Homo sapiens: one gene and its partner. The protein of the gene in region 1 purifies or fractionates together with the protein of each later gene. This does not show direct contact. Each region holds a gene or a part of one and is shown on either strand. Other genes may lie near its edges.

What was found.
Region 2: the proteins of CBX3 (region 1) and CHAF1A purify together in Homo sapiens (affinity purification with mass spectrometry; 5 studies listed by BioGRID and IntAct, with this or other methods). This does not show direct contact.

What each region holds. Positions count from the first base shown.
Region 1 is NC_000007.14:26,208,245-26,211,744, reverse strand, and holds part of CBX3 (chromobox protein homolog 3), read right to left. Parts: intron 3,353-3,500; coding exon 3,190-3,352; intron 84-3,189; coding exon 1-83.
Region 2 is NC_000019.10:4,405,640-4,409,139, reverse strand, and holds part of CHAF1A (chromatin assembly factor 1 subunit A), read right to left. Parts: intron 3,229-3,500; coding exon 3,178-3,228; intron 238-3,177; coding exon 1-237. UniProt on the Homo sapiens protein: Acts as a component of the histone chaperone complex chromatin assembly factor 1 (CAF-1), which assembles histone octamers onto DNA during replication and repair.

The sequences.
Region 1 (3,500 bases):
AACATCAATTCTCCACTGCTGTCTGTGGCACCAATTATTCTTTCAGGATCAAGACCTCTGGCAAATCCTCTTGGTTTGTCAGCCTGTTTAGAAGACATTTTTTCATACAGCAAACTCAGAGTATTAAATTGTTTTCATGGCGTATTTTAAATAAAAACATTCCAATAGTGAGATGGAAATGACTAGAGCAAGAACCCATATTTGGTAATTAAAAACATCTGATTTCCATTAACTTTACAAGCAGAAAAACCTGAGTTTGATACTCAACGTAGAATACTTAAAATTTCTGAAAACATTCAGAATAAAAAGTCAAGAAAATTACTGCGTTCAATGACACCAAAGTCAGAGTTGTGTGGGCATACAGAAAAACTAACCTCTTTATTTCTGGTAATAATAAAGTCTTGAAAGTTAATATATTTCAAATGACTTCCAGGAATTAGTCTGAATTACTGACACATTTTAAAAGCATAAACAAAACACAAACGGTAAGAAATATTAAAAATGTTAAAACTCATACCAACTATCTGTAATCATTCTAAATGATAGTAAATGTTAGAACAAACTTGTGTAACCTGTGGCCCAGGATGGCTTTGGAGGCCCAACACAAATTTGTAAACTTTCTTAAAACATTGAAACTTTCTTGCGATTTTTTTTTTTTTTTTTTTTAGCTCATCAGCTATGGTTGGTATTAAGTCTATTTTATGTGTAGCCCTCGACAATTCTCCTAATGTGGCCCAGGGCTGCCAAAAGATTGGACCCCCTGCGCTAGAAAGTACTTAATATAAACCAGTGGCTCTCAAAATGTGGTCTACGGATTCACTGGGGATTCCAGAGTCCTTTTTGGGAGGGGGTTGTGTAAGGCCCCCTTTTTTCATCTATTTGTGACTTTGGATTGTCTTCATATACCTCCACCAAAATGATCCGCCACAGCAATCAAATGTGTTTAAGTAAAATTGCCTTAAGACACATGTTGAATATCTGTAAAAATGTAAAATGCTACTCTTCTCAGCTTTTTTAGAAAAGTCATTTTAGAAATTTGTTTTAATTTCTACTGTTAGTATTGATAATTATAACCCATATAAACAAAAGCTCTCTGGGGATCCTCAATAATTTTTTTAGAGTATAAAGAGGCCCTGAGACCAAAAAAAGTTTGAGAACCAATGATATCAATAAATCCTTTATTCCTGTCAGAGTTTTACATCAATGTCACAAGCTCTGGAGTCACACTGCCTGGGTGAGAATGATGGACCTACCCCACTTACGAGCTGTGTGGCTTTGGGCAAGTTAATTAACCTCTTTGTGGTTTAGGTTAATAAAACAGAATTTTAGTATCTACTGCACAGATATTTCACAGCACATTAAAAGCAAATAATTTGGCACACAGTATAGCACATGCTAAGGACTCAATAAGTGTTGTTAAAGTTGTGCCTGATTTATTATTTAATAATTTTTTGAGACAAGGTCTTGCTCCGTTGCCTAGGCCAAAGTGCACTGGCATGATCACAGCTCACTGCACCTTGAACTCCCAGGCTCAAGCAATCCTTCTGCCTCAGCCTCCCAAGTAGCTGAGACTACAGGAGGTGTCCACCACGTCTTGCTGATTCTTTTTTTTTTCTTTGTAGAGATGGGGTCTCACTATGTTGCCCAAACTGGCCTCCAACTCCTGGGCTCAAGCGATGTTCCTGCTTTGGTTTCCCAAGGTGCTGGGATTATAGGTGCGAGCCACCGTGCCTGGCCAAAACTGCTTCTGTTGAGCATGTGATTTATTTTCAAAACCAAATTTGTAGTCAATCTCGTTTCCTCATCTGTAAAATAGTGATTATACCTATGACCTTATACAGAGTTGTCTTGAAGGTTGTACTTGGCTTCTAGTTCAAATGATCAAGTTTTAAATCATGTTTAGTGCCTGAGCCTAGAACCTAATTCAGCACCAAGATGTTTCCCCAAATTGCCACACTAGGTCAGTAGGCAAGACAAGTATAATCTGTTTTACAATCAAGGGTGTAAGTAAGAAGTTACCTGATTTGCCTGACGCCACAGAGACATAAGTAAAGCAAAGACTGGACCAAAACACATGTATAGTGAATGAACTGAATGTCTCAATTCATGCCAAGAAAAGTGTTTAACTATTATCAAAGATTACAGACTTCAAAATCAAGGTATTGTTTGGCAATACAAAGATGACATGCAAGTACTTTTCGGTGGTCAATGCCATTGATGGACTATAATCAGAAAGTTCTATTTGCGTTGTTCTTACTGTAGTGCAAAGGCTTTCGATAATCCAATCTTAGTATTGTTTGTATTTAAGATTGCTAGCCTTGGATCACAGGTAATTGGTCTGATCAGGGATCAAATCCATGAAACTAAGAAAAATTGCACTAGCACAACCTAAGTGGCATGAGCACTTACTGCACATTTACACAAAGTAGGCTAAACCACGCCCATCCTTATTGTCCTAAGTATTAAAATATTTAAAATACGATTAAGAGGCCTTTTATAAAAGTATCTGAATTTTAAAAAAGCAAGTCGTCAAAGGTGGGCTTGGTGTGGTGGTTCACGCCTGTAATCCCAGCACTCTGGGAGGCCGAGGCGGGTGGATCACCTGATGTCAGGAGTTTGAGATCAGTCTGGCCAACATGGTGAAACCCCGTCTCTACTAAATATACAAAAACCAGCTGGGTGTGGTGGTACACGCTTGTAATCCCAGCTACTCTGGAGGCGGAGGTTGCAGTGAGCCGAAACTGCACCACTACACTCCAGCCTGGGTGACAGAGGGAGACTCTGTCTCCCAGGAAAAAAAAAAAAAAAAAAAAAAAAAAAAAAAAAAGGCCAGGCGTGGTGGCTCATGCCTACAATCCCAACACTTTGGGAGGCCGAGGCGGGAGGATCATGAGGTCAGGAGTTCAAGACCAGCCTGGCCAACATGGCAAAACCCCATCTCTACTAAAAGTACCAAAATTAGCTGGGCGTGGTGGTGGGCACCTATAATCCCAGCTACTTGGGAGGCTCAGGCAGGAGAATCGCTTGAACCCAGGAGGCGGCAGTTGCAGTGACCAAGATCATGCCATTGCACTCCAGCCTGGGCGACAAGAGCAAGACTCCATCTCAAAAAAACAAACAAACAAAAAAGAAATCAAGCCATCAACCTTTTACAAAAGGACAAGCTGGTGGGCAATATTTTATACTTACAGCATCTCTTTTCTTCTTTGATTTGCTGTCATCAGATTCACTGTCAGATAAAGATTTTCTTTTTGTACCATCTTTTTCTTTGCCAGCTTTCTGAGAGTTAAGAAACGCTTCAATCAATTCTGGACAATCTAAATTTTCTTCAGGTTCCCAAGTATTGTCAGCACTGTGTTTAGTTTATTAAAAAAAAAAAAGGTGATTGAATTAAATATGATTCATCACCATTATCCAGATCTATTTTAATAGACACCCGGGGGAATAAAAAGTCCTCTGTACTGCAGATACTAATCATTTCCTCCTTCCCTACATTACCC
Region 2 (3,500 bases), on another chromosome or scaffold:
TGCTCTGGCCAATACTGGTTTCGATTCTATTTCTTAAAAAGTTATCTAAGGGACCCTTCCCGTTGACAAGTTTCGGTCTAAAGTCTATGTCAGAACCCACATGACAGTTGTTTTCCAAGGTGTCCAAAGAGGCCTCTAAATCGGGGCTTTTACTTTGCACAGAAGTACCCTGATCGTCTGACATGTCATCGGCTTTCCCCTTTGGGACAAGATTCAGGCGCTTAAACGGCAGACGGGCTGAAACAAAGACAGAAAGCCATCTCTAGTGAACGTTTAAAGTTACAACCACTCATGAGCTTGAAAATTACTGATTTGTTGGGACATGGGGGTGGGAGATAATTTTAAAGTTTAAAAAGGGACTATCTGGGCCGGGTGTGGTGGCTCATGCCTGTAATCCCAGCACTTTGGGGAGGCCGAGGCAAGCAGATCACAAGGTCAGGAGTTTGAGACCAGCCAGACCAAAATGGTGAAACCCCGTCTTTTCTAAAACTACAAAAATTAGCCAGGCCATGGTGGCACACGCCTGTAATACCAGTTACTGAGGAGGCTGAGGTAGGAGAATCGCTTGAACCTGGGAGGCAGAGGTTGAAGTGAGCTGAGATCCCAACACTGCACTGTAGCCTGGGCGACAGAGACAGACTCCCTCTCAAAAAAAAAAAAAAAAAAAAAAAAAAAAAAGGCCGGGTGCGGGAGGCCAAGGCAGGCGGATCACAAGGTCAGGAGATCGAGACCATCCTGGCTAACACGGTGAAACCCCGTCTCTACTAAAAGTACAAAAAATTAGCCGGGTGAGGTGGCGGGCGCCTGCATTCCCAGCTACTCGGGAGACTGAGGCAGGAGAATGGTGTGAACCCGGGGGGCGGAGCCTGCAGTGAGCTGAGATCACGCCACTGCACTCCAGCCTGGGCGACCTGAGCGAAACTCTCAAAAGAAAAAAAAAAAAAAAAGACGGGGCAGGGGCTATCTGAAGCCAGGTACACTGACTTACATCTATAATCCCAGCACTTCGGGAGGCTGAGGCAGGAGGATCGCTTGAGCCCAGGAGGTAGAGGCTGCAGTGAGCTGTGGTGGTGCAACTACTCTGCAGCCTGGGCAAAAGGGACCTCGTCTCAAAAAAAAAGAGGGGGTGGGGGGTGCTATCTTTTCATTCTATCCTTTTCTAACATCCTAATTTTACTTATTTTTTTTTCTTTTGGAGACAGTCTTGCTCGTCACCCATGTTGGAGTGCAATGGCGCCACCTCAGCTCACTGCAACCTCCACCTCCTGGGTTCAAGCTATTCTCCTGCCTCAGCTTCTCAAGTAGCTGGGATTACAGGCATGCACTACTACACCCAGCTAATTTTTGTATTTTTAGTAGAGACAGGGTTTCGCCATGTTGGCCAGGCTGGTCTCAAACTCCTGACCTCAGGTGATCTGCCCGCCTCCACCTCCCAAGGTGCTGGGACTACAGATGTGAGTCACCATGCCCCGCTTCAACATCCTAACTTAAAAAACAAAATCCTGACAAGCCTTTTAGCAGAGCCATCGCCAGAATTTCAAGAGACATTTGTTTATTTCAGATGCAGTTCATATTCCAAATTTATTTTTAATGGGTGAAAATCTCATTTGATAATAACTGCATCTGGTTCTCAAGTAGAAAATATAGACACATTTGTGGACAGGGTTTTTTTTTTTTCTCCTGGCCTCAGCACCCTAGGCTCTGTTAGGCTTTTCTCATCAATCAAACTGTTCTCCCAGAGTCTGCCAGGCTTCGGGCTGGTTAGGAGGAACACAGAAACACTTTGGAGAGTGAATTTCCCAAAGAACCTATGTTCACTTACTTCAATGCCATTGCATCTTTTATTAACTATTTCATCATGTAATAGACCAAATAAAAACCTGTTTTTTTTTGGGGGGGGTGTGGGGGGAGTTGTTTGTTTTGAGACAGAGTCTTGCTCTGTCACCAGGCTGGAGTGCAGTGGCGCACCCTTGGCTCACTGCAACCTCTTCCTTCCGGGTTCAAACAATTCTCTTGCCTCGGCCTCCTGAGTAGCTGGGACTACAGGTGCCCCCTACCATGCCCAGCTATTTTGTATTTTAGTAGAGACGGGGTTTCACCATGTTGGCCAGGCTGGTTTCAAACTCCTGAGCTCAGACAATCCGCCCACCTTAGCTTCCCAAAGTGCTAGGATTACAGGTGTGAGCCTAGCATCTGGCGTCCCCCTTTTTTTCAAGAGACAGAGTCTTCCTCTGTCATCCAGGCTGAAGAGCAGTGGTGTCATTATAATTCACCGCAGCCTTGAACTCCTGGACTCAAGCACTCCTCCCACCCCAGCCTCTCAAATAGCTGGTTTTACAGGTATGCAACACTGCACCCAGCCCAAGTTTGAAAAACCCAAAACTGTAGTTTCTAAAAATACAATCTGGGCCGGGTGCGGTGGCTCACACCTGTAATCCCAGCACTTTGAAAGGCTGAGGCAGGGGGATCACAAGGTCAGGAGATCGAGACCATCCCGGCCAACATGGTAAAACCCCATCTCTACTAAAAATAGAAAAATTAGCTGGGTGTGGTGGCACGCGCCTGTAATCCCAGCTACTTGGGAGGCTGAAGGAGGAGAATTGCTTGAACCCAGGAGGCGGAGGTTGCAGTGAGCAGAGATCGCACCACTGCACTCCAGCCTGGGCAACAGAATGAGACTCCGTCTCAAAAAAAAAAAAAAAAAAATTACAATCCAACCGCTCATCTGGCCCAAGGGTGAACACACTCCCCGTTTTATGCAGAAGGATTTGGGAGCATTTATCTTCCAGGACAACAGTGGTTCTCTGAGGGGGCAGTTCTACCTCCCAGGGGACATCAGCCACGTATAGAGATATTTTTGGTTGTTACGACTTGGAGGATGCACTTACTGGCATCCGGTGGGAAGAGGCCAGGGATGCTGCTACGCTCCCTACAACATACAGGAGAGCTCCCAGCTGCAAGTTACAAAACACCAATCGTGCATAAGTGGAGGCCTCGGGGTTTACTTGTGGGAACCCCACGAGACATTACTGTGTGAAAAGCATTTTCCCAGCTTCCTGGTCTGAAGAAGGACTGTTTCTCTCCCCTCTAGCTCCAGGCTTCCACTGAGGTCTCCAACAAGAGACAAGGAAGACTATAAACTACGAACAACTCTTTAACCCATTTCCAAATAATTACCTTGTATTAACTTCTTAACTGGAAAAGCTGGTCTATCTTTGCAATCCATGGCTGCAAATAAAAGTGTCAAAGGGTAAACTGTTAAATTCTGCAAATAATCAAGTTAGCAAATACATATGTAGAGCCAATTATGTACAAGGTGGAGGCAATTCTGACCCCTCTGTCCTCGGGGGCCATTTGACACAGTCTAGAGATGTTTTTGGTTGTCATGATGCAGGGAGGGCTCAAAGGGATGCTATTCACATCCAGTGGGTAGAGGCCAGGGATTCTGCTAAATGTCCCACAATGCAATGCACAGCACACCACAATGAAGAATTATATGG